Linked DNA regions of Homo sapiens. The protein of the gene in region 2 interacts with the protein of the main gene of each other region in a biochemical or structural test. Each region holds a gene or a part of one and is shown on either strand. Other genes may lie near its edges.

What was found. Proteins that work in one complex are often made in the same cells at the same time.
Region 1: the proteins of NMBR (region 2) and NMB form a complex in vitro, tested with the Homo sapiens proteins (one study listed by BioGRID).

The regions. Positions count from the first base shown.
Region 1 is NC_000015.10:84,655,193-84,662,422, forward strand, and holds the start of NMB (neuromedin-B isoform 1 preproprotein), read right to left. Parts: upstream 3,008-7,230; 5' UTR 2,961-3,007; coding exon 2,804-2,960; intron 2,489-2,803; coding exon of another isoform or gene 2,208-2,488; intron 2,157-2,207; coding exon 1,984-2,156; intron 218-1,983; coding exon 182-217; coding exon of another isoform or gene 78-181; 3' UTR 1-77. UniProt on the Homo sapiens protein: Stimulates smooth muscle contraction. Induces sighing by acting directly on the pre-Botzinger complex, a cluster of several thousand neurons in the ventrolateral medulla responsible for inspiration during respiratory activity.
Region 2 is NC_000006.12:142,144,107-142,152,068, forward strand, and holds the start of NMBR (neuromedin-B receptor), read right to left. Parts: upstream 3,017-7,962; 5' UTR 2,938-3,016; intron 1-2,937. Other genes in the region: vacuolar protein sorting-associated protein VTA1 homolog, read left to right, coding at 3,182-3,293. UniProt on the Homo sapiens protein: Receptor for neuromedin-B. Contributes to the maintenance of basal sigh rate through signaling in the pre-Botzinger complex, a cluster of several thousand neurons in the ventrolateral medulla responsible for inspiration during respiratory activity.

The sequences.
Region 1 (7,230 bases), on a different chromosome or scaffold from region 2:
ATAATCTGTGTCTGCATCAGCGATATTTCTGGTGACCCAGCCAGAAATCACAGTAATGGAGTAACAGAGATTTGAGCTCAGGATTTACATCCAGATGGGGCCATCAACAGGGTCCCATTCAGCACCTTCCCTGGGTGGGCACAATCTAAGCCACGCTGTTGTGTCTGCCCCATTATTGGTGTCATTTCTGCAGTATTTGTACCAGCAGCCTCCTGTACTGAAGAGAAACATACAGAAGAATTGAGCCAGGGAGGGGCTCCTGATAAAGATAGGGGCATCCTGCCATTCCTAAGTGCCAGATGTCTGCAGAGGTGGGCACCAGCAGGCTGTCAGCTGAGGCAGGCCCCAGAGCACCCTGAATTGCCTTGGAGGGGTCGGGGCAGTAGTTTTCTCAGAACACAGCCCCAACCACCCAGGGTGGTCATGACAGTCAAAGAAGATCGTGGAAGAAAATCCAAATACAGTGCTTGGTGCTGGGCTAGTGTCAGCGTCCTCACTCCCCCACCCCAGCTCTGCCCCAGACCTCACTCTGAAGCCCCAGACGTAGGCACTGCTGCTTCTGAGATTCTCTAGTTGGTCTGCATGTGTCAGAGCTTCAAAACCAAGGGCATTAGAGGTGACATTGTTTCCCTTCAGACTCAGCCAGCCCAAGCTCCTAGGCCTTACATCTGAGGTCCTCAGGGGCTGCTGGTTCTGTGCCTCAGGAAGTCAGGGATGTTGGTTGAGGCTGGGTTGGACCTTTTCTAGGGAATGCCTCTCCCTTCAAAATGCACACACTATATGCTAGGCACACTGGGGGATATGAAGGCGAGTCTACAACAGGTGCCGCCAGGGAGCTCACAGACTGATAAGAGCTCGCATCTACTAAGGGCTGTCTATGAGCCAGGCACCATGCTGAGCATTTGACATAAATGGTCTCATTTAATGGGAGATGGGCCTTATTATCTTCATTTTATGGGTGAAGAATATTGAGGCTTTAGAGAAGTTAAGGGACATTTCTAAGGTCATACAGCTACTAAGTAGCTAGGTTATGAGCCCAGCACGTTGTAGTCAAAACCCACATTCTACCACATCACACTGCCTTCTGCACACAGCAGCAGGACCAGGGAGGGTGGTGTGCAGTAAGGACAGCACCAGGAGCAGGGAATGAAGGAGTTGCCACTCAGCGGGGCTATACCTTGAGGCTAGCTTGGCTCCAGCTTTGGAGTCTTGAATCCCATAGATCAGTGACTGACAACCAATAATGATTTGGGGCCCTCTCCCCCAGCAGACATCTGGTGATGTCTGGAGGTCTTTTCAGTTGTCACAACTTGATGGGGGGGAAAGATGCTACTGGCATCTAGTATGTAGAGACCAGGGATGCTGCCAAACATCCCATGATGCACACGTCAGCCCTCACAAGAAACAGTGATTCAGCCTAGAACGTCAAATGTACTGAAGTTGCTAAACCCTACCACTGGATACTGAGGCAGATGAGAGAATGGGAAGAGCTCCAGTCCAGGTGAACAAGGTCCAGACTCTGTCTTGGCTGCTGACTTCTCTTTCCCTCTCTGGGCCTCAGGGTCCCATTCCGGCCACAAGCATACACAGGACACAGCAAAGGTGGACTTGACTAATGCAGCAGGGAACAGCATGGGTGGGACAAGACTGTGTAGACTGGGGGAGAAAGGTCCTGCTCCAAAAGGCTGATGATCCCAGTCTGTTACTTTAGACTGGGTGATGAGTCAGGGGAACTTCTTTCCCTACTTCTTGCCCCATGGGGTCTACTGGGAAGGTCAGCTTCCTTTCTTTGGACTGTTCCTCCTTTGAGCTCTGCCTCAAGAGGGAAAAGCCTGGAAACCTGGCTTTCTGGGGTCCACACCCATAATGTCCTAGTCAGACAGTCACACCCTAATACAGTACTGGGTGGTAATTCCTCCCATGCAGGATCCGGGGATGGCCCCAGCTGGGCCCTCCTGACATTGGAGCAGGGGCCCGGCTCACCTGGATTTGGGGTGCGGGGCGGCTGAGGCTCACGCCCAGAGCCTTCTTTAGCAGGAGGATTCCGAGCAGATCATGACTCAGCTGCAGTCGCTGGTCCCTCAGGGAGGTGTGGGGAGCTGTCCCCAATGGGGATGGGCTGGAAGGCTCCAGACTCTTCTTGCCCATGAAGTGACCTGGAAAGGAGGTGTCCAGGCACAAGGAAGTCAAGCAGCCAGGATCCTACCTCAGAGGAAAAGTTCCTCATCTCTCCCACGTTTCCGTTCTTGTAGCGGGAAGACACTTAACCTTCCTCCTCTTGGTGCTTCCACCTCACCAAGGAGCCACAAAGGTGTCTGGGTGGTGGCAAAGCCTGCTCCCTCAGCTTTTCCTGAACAGGTAGAGAGGATGGCACAGCTGGCAGGAAGGTGGGATGGTCCAGGGCCAGGGAGAAACTCTGCTAGTTGTGTGGGCTGCTTGGACAAGGGACGAAAAAGGGCAGGGTAGGAAGTGGAGAGTGAAGAGGCGCCTGGAAAGTGGAGGTGCAGCAAAAACACACCAGCGGTTAGAAGATTCGGTTAAGTCTCGCCTAAGGTAAGGGGCACCGGCTGGCAGTGGGATTTAGGATCTAGCCCAGCCCTGTCTTAAACTGGCTGCGCGACCTTAGCCAAGTCACTGACCTGTCCGGGTCTCAAGTACATATCTATTAAATTAGATGAGCCCCAGGGTTTTCCACCTGCTCCGACACTAGTGTCCGTGGCTGAGGAGCGGCCAGAGGGTTGAGAAGGAAATGGGGTCTGAACTGGATGAGGGGCGCTTGCTTGCTCCGTCCCCAAAGACTTACCGGTGGCCCAGAGGTTGCCTCGCGAGTGCACTCGGATCTTGCTGGCTCGGCTGCGGGGCTCCGGGAGATCCCAGCTGAGCGGGGCGACGCCGGCAGCGAGCAGGGCGAAGAGCAGGAGGCTGCCGAACATCCGAGCGCCCCCCGCCCGCCGGGCCATGGCTGTGCCCGGGCCGCGGCTTCGTTCGGGCGCGCTTCCCGGCCGCTGGGCTCCGGGGCTGCCTTCGATCCTTTTAAATCCGCGCCCCTGGGGGCGGAGCCTGCCCTGAGCAGCGGAGCCGTGCCCCGCGCCCGCCGCCCTCCCCGCCGTCCCCACCCTCCCGCTAGGTTACCAGGCAGGGGCACCCCCTTTGGGCCGCCCAGAGACCTGCACACCCACACTCTGGCCCGCACGCGGGCACCGCTTCCGCCAGGGGCTTCTGGCGGAAGCCCGCCACCTTCAGGCTAAGGACCGGGCACCGGCCAAACAGGGGCCCGGCCCCGGCGGCGGAGCCGCTTCCCCTGGCCCTGCCTTGCCACTCTGCCACGGCTTTCGGCCAAATAGGCACTTCAGCCCTCTGAGCCTCTCTTCATGAGGGTAGAGGTCGGGCGAGGAGCTCTCCTCCCGGGTAACAGGCTTTTTTTTTTTTTTTTTTTTTTTTTTCTGAGACAGGATCTGGCAGTATCGCGCAGGTTGGAGTGCGGTGGCGCGATCACGGCTCACTGCAAACTCAACCTCCAGGGCTGGGCTCAAGCCTCAGCCTCCCCAGAAGCTGGGACCACAGGCACACGCCTTCATGCCTGGCTTTTTTTTTTTTTCTTTCCAAGAGACTGGATGTCGCTAGGTTTCCCAGGCTAACAGAGGCATTTTTACAGTGTCCAGCCAAGTGCTAGGCACCAAAGGACTTCCATAAACTAATCCCCATCACCTCCGCCCTTTGGGGGAATCTGACCCGTGTTCACCTTGCTCTCTGCCCTCTCACAGCCAGCATCACAGTCTGGAAATGTTCTGGCACACAGTAGGTGCTCAGAATGGGAATGCAGAATGATGGAGGGTGGGACAAAGGGCCGCTTCTGAGGAACGGGCATCCAGCTGGAGGGCCTGGCTTATGGGCAGGAAGCAGACCTCTGGGTCAAGAAAGTGGAAAGAGCACTGCACCCAGGACTGCACTGCACCCAGGAGTCCATGTACAAGCTGTGACCCGGCTGAACCTCACTTTCTTCAACTGTAAAATGGTAATAACCACACTGCCCTAATTTTAATACTTTTACATGTTTTAGCATAAGTACTCTGTGGCCGGAAGCAACAATTCTGTAGGACCTGCCCTCTCACACCTGGCACTTTGTTCTCCCCAGGAGCTGTCTGGACTTTCTTGGAAAGAACTTCTGGATAAGTGGTATCATATAATGAGCAGAGGAAAACACTGTGCTCCAGAAGAATACATTTATGTTTGCTTAATTAACTGAAACCCATTGTTCAGAGCACTACACTAGACACAAGAAGAGGGGCGACAGATAATTCCTTGCTCCCAAGGGAGTTAACCATCTCATTGGAGAGACAAGTACACAAAGGAGAGAGTGATGGAGGAGCGGGGGTGCAGACCACCCCTTGGACTCTGGATACCTCTGGAACACGGAACAGAGTGGCCGTACCAGAACCTACTCCCATCTGGCTTGATAATGGGACCTGCTTCTAGGACTCTTGCTTAGTATCTAGCTCAGCAAGGTTGCTAGCTCTGTGGATCCTCATCCTAGAAGGGGAAGCTCACATGAAAAACTGGCTGTCATACCCAGCTGGAGGCCCAGCTTCCAGGAGCATGACACACAGGACAGGGACGTTTCATTTCTGGCCCTGGCTTTCCCCCCAATCTCCTTGCTTCTCACCTCCCACCCTGGCATTTACACCTCTCTGCTTTCTTGTCACAGCTTAGCCATGGTGTACAGATATAGCTCTTATCACCTTCCGGTAATCATTCCTTTGTGACCCCCCTCCCTCTCCTCTGCATCCATCAAACCCCCATCCTATCTTCTCTAGTCCATGGATAATAGAAATTAGCGTGAACACACAGAAGCTGGTATTGATTGAGTGCTGCATCACTTAAATGCTTGAAGGAATCTTATTTGGTAGGTTTCTGTCTCCTCATTTTTATAGGTGGGAACAGGCTAAGAGGTTTAGCCACTTTCCCAGAAGTCCCACTGGAATCAGATTTCAGGTCTGTCTGGACCACTGCATCAGGCCCCCAAATCTATGCAGGGCAGATACAACTCTCCCTAAACCACACCCACTCCCATTGTACCATCTCAAATTTCAACACCAAGTTGTGTTTATGTATCTCAGGAGGGAGAGGGAGTGGGCACTGCATTTCGAGTTTCACCTCTCTTCCACAGGTGACTGGACCTTGAGTTCTGCTAAGGTTATTTATACTTAAGCCAAGCTTCCTCTGACACAGCCTGGGTTCACAGCTGCAGCCACAGCTCTGAGGCTGGCCCCAGGCACCCTTGGAACCATTTGCTCTGTCAGCCTACTATAGAAAAAAAAGGGGGGGGGCCTCTGAGGACCCTGGAGAAAACAGCAGGGGAGCACCTCCACAGACTTAGGAGCACTCACCTTAGGGAAAAAAATGGGAGGCACAGGGGAGAAGGTGGCTTGCTCAAGGGAGTGCTAGGCTCTAAGTTTAGCATGAGGACCTCAAATGCCAACTGCCTGTTCCCTAAGTCCACTCTGGTGGCAAGAGAAGTCCAAAGGCCTCCACTCCATGGGGAAAGGCTAGCATTGAATTGAATGGAGGTACGTGGGGAAGCTCTTCAGAACCCACTCTCGACCCTCCTAGGATTCTACAACATTCAAGGACATGCACAGAAAATGTGAGGCAGGTTCACAAAACAACCCATGGGGTAACTAAAAGGGTGAAAGATACATGGCAAATCCTATCATAGCTAACACCAGGAAAATATTTAAAGTACACCAAGTTTTTTAATAAAAAAATTGCTTCATCAAAAATAGCGATTAAGAATGGATATTACAGCCGGGAGCCAGGGCTCGCACCTATAATCTTAGCACTTTGGGAGGCTGAGATGGGCGGATCACCTGAGGCAGGAGTTCGAGACCAACCTGGCCAACATGGTGAAACCTCATCTCTACTAAAAATACAAAAATTAACCGGGCGTGATGGCAACGCACCTGTAATCCCAGGTACTCAGGAGGCCGAGGAAGGAGAATCACTTGAACCTGGGAGGTCAGGGCGGCAGTGAGCCAAGATCGCACTACTGCACTCCAGCCTGGGCAACAAGTGCAAAACTCCGCCACAAAAAAAAAAAAAAAGAAAGAAAGAAAGAAAGAAAAAGAAAATAAATGACAGGAAACCTAGAGTTGTCACAACAGGATGTGTAAAACAGGGGTGTTCAATCTTTTGGCTTCCCTGGGCCACATTGGAAGAGGAATTGTCTTGGGCCACACATAAAATACACTAACATTAATGATAGCCGATGAGCTTAAAAAAAAAAAAAAGTCACACACAAAATAATCTCTTACTGCTTTAGGAAAGCTTACGAATGTGTGTTGGGCTACATCCAAAGCTACTGGGCCGTGGCCGGACGTGGTGGCTCACGCCTGTAATCTCAGCACTTTGGGAGGCTGAGGCGGATGGATCACGAGGTCAGGAGACCGAGACCATCCTGGCTAACATGGTGAAACCCCGTCTCTACTAAAAATACAAAAAATTAGCCGGGTGTGGTGGCGGGTGCCTGTAGTCCCAGCTACTCGGGAGGCTGAGGCAGGAGAATCTCTTGAACCCAGGAGGCGGAGATTGCAGTGAGCCGAGATCGTGCCATTGCACTCCAACCTGGGCAAAAAGAGAGAAACTCCGTCTCAAAAAAAAAAAAAAAAAAAAAAAAAAAAAAAAAAAAAAAAACCTACTGGGCCGCATGTGGCCCGAGGGCCGCGGGTTGGACAGGCTTGGTGTAAAATCTCTATTTTGGCAAATCTTTGAGCACAATCTCCAACTGTATGGGCTGGGGAGATGAAGAGAAACATCCTGGGATATCTCAGGCCCTACTCTTTACTTTCAGAGTGAAGAAGGGACCAGAGAACCAGGAAAACAGCAGAATCTTTAAGGGAAAATCAGGGATATTGGATACAATTTCTTAAACTCAGAGGGAACGCATAGGGATTACCTATAAAATCAGAACAGTAACCTCAAGAAGGAAATCTTTAGTAAATCAAAATTGCCAAAATACAAAAGTTTTTTTTTTTAATTTTTATTTATTTATTTTTTTTTGAGACAAGGTCTTGCTCTGTTGCCCAGGCTGGAGTGCAATGGCATGATTTCAGCTCACTGCAACCTCTACCTCTCAGGCTCAAGCAATTCTCCTGTCTCAGCTTCCACTGCGCCCGGCTAACAAAATGTTTTCTTAAAGGCAATATTTGAAAAAAAGAAAATACCTACACCTAA
Region 2 (7,962 bases):
GCAAATGGTCCTGGCCAAGTTTTCAGGGTCTTCCCTATCATTCTTCTGCGGAAAATTTAAGGAAAAATTATTTCTACTTGGGGGGGATGCTAAAATAATAGGATGTTAGTCTCATGATACTGGAAGCCAAATTTCTACCACATACAGTATCTTAAAAAGATACAGCTATAGATATATATATTATCCTGATTACATTGACTGATGCCCTGTCATTTGCCAACAAGATGGTTCTGACCAAACGGACACAGAATATTTTTATTGTCAGATGATCACACATACATGTGTGTATGTAGGGTATGGTGTAAAACATTTTTTCCCATCAAAACACCTGTCAGCTCTAGTTTCTCTCCATTTTCTTCTTCCTATGGTTGCCCTCACCCCCTATTTTGTTCTACAGCTCTGCCCTCCCCTTACTTGCCAAGGTTCTAGCCCAGTCCTAGAGGGTGATGTCAGATCCTTCAGAAACTGGTCTGAGATGAATGGAGAAGAAGAATGTAGGTCTTTCTAGTAAAATATCATAGTAAAACAAGAAAAAGCAACCTCACAGTCATTAATATTTGTTTTATAGCATAATTTCAATGTGTGTTACACTAACACTGTCTCTGTACTGTTCTCCATCAAATCAATTATCATCTCATGAAAGGGTTAGCATATTTAGAAAGAAGAGAGCATGAGGCTCTTGTCTGTAATCTCAGCACTTTGGGAGGCCGAGGCAGGAGTATCACTTGAGACTAAGAGTTCAAGACCTGCCTAGGCAACAAAATAATAATAATTAGCCATAGTGTTATGTGCCTGTGGTCCCAGTTACTCAGGAGGCTGAGGCAAGAAGATCCTTGAGCCCAGGAGTCCAAGACTGCAGCGAGCTCTGATAGTGTGCTGCACTCCAGCTTAGGTGACAGAGTGAGAACCTGTCTAAAAAAAAAAAAAAAAAAAGAAAGAAAAAAAGAAGGAAGGAAGGAGAAAAGAAAGAAAAGAAAAGAGCATGTGTTGGCAGATCAGAGAGTAAAATCCAACTCCAACCATTTCACTTTCTTATTTTTCCCTCAGTCCTGCTCATGAGGGTATGCAAATAAGAGTACACATGAATGTATGCAAATGAGAAAGAGTGGCAAAATTCACTTCTGAAGGGGGAGATCAGGAGAGTAACAGGAGGGTGCAGCCTTCTACCAGGAAGAGGAACATTTGTTTCTCAGACATAAGATGATGGAATAGAGAAAAGATAAAACATAAGATCTAGAAAGACATCATAGTCAAGTAGTAATGGCTAGGTGCACAGGCTCTGAAACCAAAATACCTAGATTTTAATGTGGAATACTCATCCTTCCTGGCTGTGACCTAGTGCAAGTTATCTAGATTCTATGTGTCTTATTTTTCTCATCTGTAAAATAATAATGATATGTTCCTCATAGGGTTGTGGTGCAAATTAAATAAATTAATATAAAGACCCTAGAAACATGCATGATACATAGTTGATGCTCAGCAAATGCTGCTAGCTAGTTATTATTACTTTAAGTTGTGGTAGAGGCAAGGCAAAATAATTCATATCTGGTGGTGGCCTTAATCTCAATAGCAGGAAATGCTGTTGTAGACCAAGGAAATTGGGGCTGAGTGCCTAGCTTGAATAGAGCGAGAGAAGTTTGAAACACCATCTGTGGACTACAGCACTGGTCCTTAACCCTAGACGTAACATTAAAATTACATGAGGACCTTTTAAAGATACTGACATTTAGGATCCCACCTAGAACAATTAAGTGAGAATGCCTGGAGTGGGCTTTAAAGTTGATCTTTAAGGGCAGCTGCGGTTGAGAATCAAGAAGTAATAGGAAACAAATAAATGAAAAGTTGTGAGTATAGAAAGAAAACAGTTATGGTTATCCAACTCTGCTTTTCTTCATTGATTTCTCTACCAATCTAGCAACTTTTGACTGGAAAGTCCAAATAGTGGGAGTAAGAGAAAGAGAAAGAAACCATACATTCTCCAGTGGTAGGAAATATGCCGCTGAGATTGGGGAAGAAGACAGAACTGAGTTTCAGGCTGAGTAAAAAAGCCCGACCCAGAATAAGATGATGGACTTTGCAAATAGGTCTAGGCAACGTATGTGGAGTGGGATAATATGAGGACATGGAGCGGTTTCTTCTGGGGGTGAGAGAGTGATCAGAAAATAGTAGGCAGAGGGGAATTTCCGAGCTGGAGATTTTGGCTCTTGGGGATAGTGTGATTTCAGTGAAAACTAGTTTTAAGATGAATTGTCAAAACTGAGGACTGAGATAAAATAAAGAAGGTTATTGGAGGAAGTAAATAAAGTGTACAGTCCTGAAAGATATAAGTAAGGGATGGAGAGGAGAGGAAGAGAATTGAAGTCATTGAGGGTAGAAGGAAAAGTGATGCCTACTGTACAATGGTTAAGAGTTACCAGCGTTGAAAACGTCCCAAACACCCTATCTTACATTAAGACAAGATAATAAATATGAAAATACTTTACAAATTGTTAATCACTCTCCAGAAAAAAAAAAGGTGATCTACAGATTATTCATTCACTAAAATACGTACTAGCCAGCTGAGAACAAAAGTTCAATCTTCTTTAAGCTTCATATGTTTAGCTTAATTTGGCGCGAAATCTGATTATTTTATCCAGTATGTCAACATAGAAAAATTTAATTTACAATTTAAACACATTATTTCTCTCTCATGCAAGTATTGAAATTAAAGTTTCTAAAATCAAAAAGGCTTCTAAAGGACACTGCTATATGGAATATTAATGTGGCATATTAACTGGAAGTGGTAATTCCTGAATGACGCCAAAGGCAATTCTCGCCTTTATACTTTCTCCCAGTCAACATACATTATTTTCTTGTTTTTCCTTTTCTATCCTTCCTTTTGCCACAAACAACAAACCAAACAAAAAAGCAAAACAAAACAAAAACCCTTCCTCCTACCAGCAGAGAGCGCTAGCGCCATGCGCGGCATAAGCGCCAAAATGCTCGGGTCTTCTGTGGGTTCTAACCGCCGAGAGCCAAGCACCCTGAGGTTGTCCCAGCTGGGGATCCGTAGTTGACTTGACGTCGCTGAGCAACGGAAGAGTGGGCAGCATTTGCTCTGAACGCTCGTGCGCGCTACCGCCCAGACGGAAGCGGAAGTGCCGGTGGAGCGCGAGTAGGAAGTGGTGAGTTCGGAGTAGAGATGGCCGCGCTTGCACCGCTGCCCCCGCTCCCCGCACAGTTCAAGAGCATACAGCATCATCTGAGGACGGCTCAGGAGCATGACAAGCGAGACCCTGTGGTGGCTTATTACTGTGAGTCTTTCCGAGTGGCCGCGCCCTTTCTTTCCCAGTTGCATTTTAGGGCCCACACACCTCCCTGAGGTTCTTGGGGCATGCCCCGCCCCCCTCGCTTTAAACCTGAGCTTTGACCTCGAGCCTACCCAGGGAACTCCCTGGGTTCCCACCCCCTGGCAGTAGGAATCCCAAAACACCATGGTGTCCACTGCTTCTCCTATCTTGTGCTTAAATGCTCCAGTACTGACTACACAGGCTCTTGAACTGTGGAATATAATCTTCCAAGGTTTTCTCTGTGTGTGTACACACAAGAGCTTCTTGTCTCAAATAGGAATCCTGAAAATAAATTGAGTTAGGTTTAAAACGAAGGTGAGTGTCCGAAAGAAGGAGTGATGTGGATAAAAGGACGATAGACTAGTTGAAAACATAGTAATAAGTGAATATTATTTATGACAGCATGCAAGCCCAATCAGAAACTCATTTGGTTAAATGGGGAGTATCTGCTACTAAATAAGCAGTTGAATTTGACCTTTCCCCACCCAGCTGCTCTCTCCTACCATGCAGAATTTTTAGTTTTGACTTCTTTGAATAATACCCGCTGTTGAGACCTTTGAAAGCAGTATTTTCACTTTGAGTGTTATACGTTGAATTTACAGTTTGATTAAAAAAAATATAGGTTAACTCTGCTCAAACTTGTAGTGAGTAAAGGGAGTGCCAGTAATTCTGTGTTAACTTTATTTTGTATTCTGTACTCTTAACTTTACTGCAAATAAAACAAGTAACTGGACAATTATAATTCTGAAAAGGATATTTAGAGTTGAGAAGTTGGATATAATGCGTCCATTGTTGTGTATATTGTAAGGTTAGCTAAAATCTGGTCACTGTTATCTCTGCCATACTCCAAATGTACCCTGTTTCTCAAATGTGCAAGGCCTTTTCAGACCTACCATCTTCCACTCTCTTGGAATGTGCACCTTTTTCTTGCACTTGGCAAACTCATGATTCAAGATCTAACCCAAATGTCACCACTTCTGTGGGCAGCAAATTGATTATTCTCTGTGCATTACTTCATTTTGTTCAAATTTTACAGCATCATTTTTATTATACTTGTTCTTCAGTTTCCTCAAGCAGGGTCCATATTCATTCAGTATGTGTTCATTGAGCTACCTTTGTATCAAGCATTAGTAGGCGCTGTGACTACATTTGCTGCATTTTTGGAGCTTACATACAATGGAGGTAGAGAGTTTCAACAATATAGAGTCTATCATACATAGAGTATTAAAAGCTTATGAAGACAAATAGAGCAAGGAAAAGGAATAAGAGTATCAGGAGTAGTGGTGGCAGGGAGTGCAGATGGGATTTCAGTTTCATAGTGGTCAGGAACACTTCACTGAATTGACATTTGGGGAAATAAAAGAGTGAAAGGCATACCTTGCACCATCTGGGAAAGAGTATTCTCCATAGAGGTTATAAAAGTCCCGAAGTAGAGGCTTGCTGGAAGGAGGAGTAAGTAGACTATTGTGACTGGAGTGGATGGGGCTTGGGAGTGATGGGATAAGGTCAAAGAATCTCTCATCCCTAAAGGAAATTCCTGTTCCCGATCCCTGTATCATGTATCTTTGTGACAAACCAGGGACACCTTACTCACTGTCGTCCTTTCCCTCTAGATTTTTCTAAACCTAATCCAGTTTCCTTTATTTAAAAATATAACATAAACTCTCACCATATCATTCCCTAAAGTTGCAGCTCTGCTTTTCCAGCCTTATAGGTAAGTTTGAAATAGTTGTCCATAAGTTAGCTTTACGCCTTTATCTTGTAGAGCCTTTCAGCCCATGCAGTCTGGTTTTCATGCCCAGTATTTCACTGAAACTGCTCTCATCAGGCTTATGAAGAAATATTTTTATTGCTCAGGTGACACTTAACAATTTTAGTTATGAAACATGTACATATAAAAGCATATGTAATGTGCAGACAGTTTAAGGAATAATAAAATGAACACTAATATGCCTATCACATTTGATGTTATTAAACTTTTTAATTTTTGACAATCTGGTGGGTGTGAAATGGTGGTGTCTCATTGGAGCGAAATCTGCAATTCTCTGAGTCTTAATGAGGTTTAGCATCTTTTCATATGTTAATTAACCATTTGTGATTCGGTTTTGAAATACTTGTTTATTGCTTTTGCCCATTTATCTGTCACAGTCTTGTCTTAATAATGTTAGATGTTAATCCTTTGTTATATGTGTTGTAAATATCTTCTCCCATTTCAGTTTGATTTTTCACTCTGAAGACCTTTGATGTTCAGAAGTTCTTAATTTAAAAATGTTATCAATCATTGTATGAATCTCTTAGGACTTAACCTTCTGATTTTATAGGCTTTCATTTCTTTTCGTGTATTTGTTTGGGACTTTGGCTTTCTACATCTGTAGATGGGTGTTTTTAATCAATTTTGGAAAATTTTCTCTACTATTATTTGTTCAAATATTGCTTATATTTCTATTCTCTCATAAAAGTTTGATTAGACATGTTTTGCACTTCTCCCATTTAACTTCCTTGTCTCTTGATTCTGTCATTTTTTTTTATCTCTTTGTCTTTCTGTGCTGCATTCTGTGTAATTTCTTGAGGTTTATCTTCACCTCCCTATATTTTATTGTTTAACCCTTTTATTGAATTTCTACTTTAATTTTTTATTTTAGTGTTCTCTTTTGGTTTTCATATTGGCCTGGCCATTTCTGATAGTTTCTTGTTACTGATATTTTTAACCACTCTATTTCTGTGAACACTTTAAATATATGGATTTATGTTTGCTGTTTGATAACATTGTAGCTGCTATATTTGTGGGCCTGATTCTGCTTTTCAACAGAACACTGCTCTTGGTGACTTCTTTCCTTACAATTGTGGGCTAGTCATGCTAGACCAGCGCTCTCCAAACTGGAGTAGGCAAATAATTCCAAAGGAATCAATTTTCCAATTCTTGACTTCCATGTTTTCCTTCCAAAAACTGTTCTTAACAAAGCTCCTGTGGTCAGGGTAGCAAAGTAGTATATAATATGCTGCTTATCTTTTCCTACATCCTGTTCACAATTGTCCTTCTCCCACTTTAATGAAGAACGGCATACTCTCACGCATCCTGAGTGCTTTTATGTTGTATTGCCTTGAAAGAGAAGGTGGAAAATCCTCCAGGGTGTCCAGACAAAAGAGACAATTCAAATTACCCATGTTAGTGAAGCCTCCATTAATTAAGGCATTGGATAGACCTTCCTATCTTTCCTGGTCTTACATTGAAGAAAACCAGCCAGAGCAAAAAATAAACCTTCATTCGGGAGTTCAAGACCAGCCTGACCAACATGAAGAAACCCTGTCTGTACTAAAAATACAAAATTAGCTGGGTGTGGTGGCGCATGCCTGTAATCCTAGCTACTTGGGAGGCTGAGGCAGGAGAATCACTTGAACCTGGGAGGCAGAAGTCGCAGTAAGCTGAGATCGTGCCATTGCACTCCAGCCTGGGCAGCAAGAGCGAAACTCCATCTCCAAAAAAAAAAAAAAAGCTAAGCATGAAAGGTTCCAAAAGAGCATTCTAATTTGAGGGGAAGGAGGTAGAACTTTGTATAAGGGGGATGCAGGGAGTCACCTGGAATTGTATATGGGGGATGCAGGGAGTCACCTGGAGTTTGTCTCTTTTCAGGAACAGTTGGTCAGTGGATCTCCGAAGAGGGAGGAGTTATTCTGCGATATTAGCAGCCATTGTTAGGTCATCTTGGATTTTATCAAGAGGTTGAGGAGGAACAGTTTGGGGCCAAGGTCATGAGCAAGATGATGTGAGGAAGATTAGCTGTAGGGACAGGGATGTGGAGGGACCACAGTGGGAAATCTCAGTCTTTCAGAGTCTCTTACATTTATACATGTATCTGTTAAGGGTAATGCCTTATGTTAAAACCGGTCCTGTGTTGCAGTATTCTGAATTCTCAAAATGATAAAAATTTTCATGAGATGACCTTACTGCCTCATTCTGTATTCATTATTAAAGAATACCAATCTTGGGTTGAGAGCAAAACCAAGAACAAAGGAGAAATACTGAAGATGAGAGTACCTTGTTTCATCCAAACAAGCTCCTGCAAGGCTCTGCAGCTTATTGCTATTTTATAATTAGAATTTAGAAATAAAATGGGGACATGAGTTGACATTCCAACTGGAATATTGTATTTCTCTGAAAAAGTAACTCTTACTTGGCTGATTAGTTTGGTGTTAGCAACTGGCATTGCCATTAAACAGTGTGGTAGACATTCTCTTTAAACTAAATGAGCTAAAATCTTCGGCTCTGAGGTTTTTTGTTTTGTTTTGTTCTTCTGGAAGTACATTTAAAACAGCTTGGCCGAGCACGGTGGCTCATGCCTGTAATCCCAGCACTTTGGGAGGCTGAGGCAGGCAGATCACCCGAGGTCAGGAGTTCAAGATCAGCCTGGCCAATATGGTGAAACCCCATCTCTACTAAAAATACAGAAATTAGCTGGATGTGGTGGCAGGTGCCTGTAATCCCAGCTACTGGGGAGGCTGAGGCAGGAGAATTGCTTGAACCTGGAGGTGGAGGTTGCAGTGAGCTGAGATCGTGCAATTGCACTCCAACCTGGGGAACAGGAGCAAGACTTCGTCTCAAAAAAATAATAAGAAAAAGAAGAAGAAGAAGAAA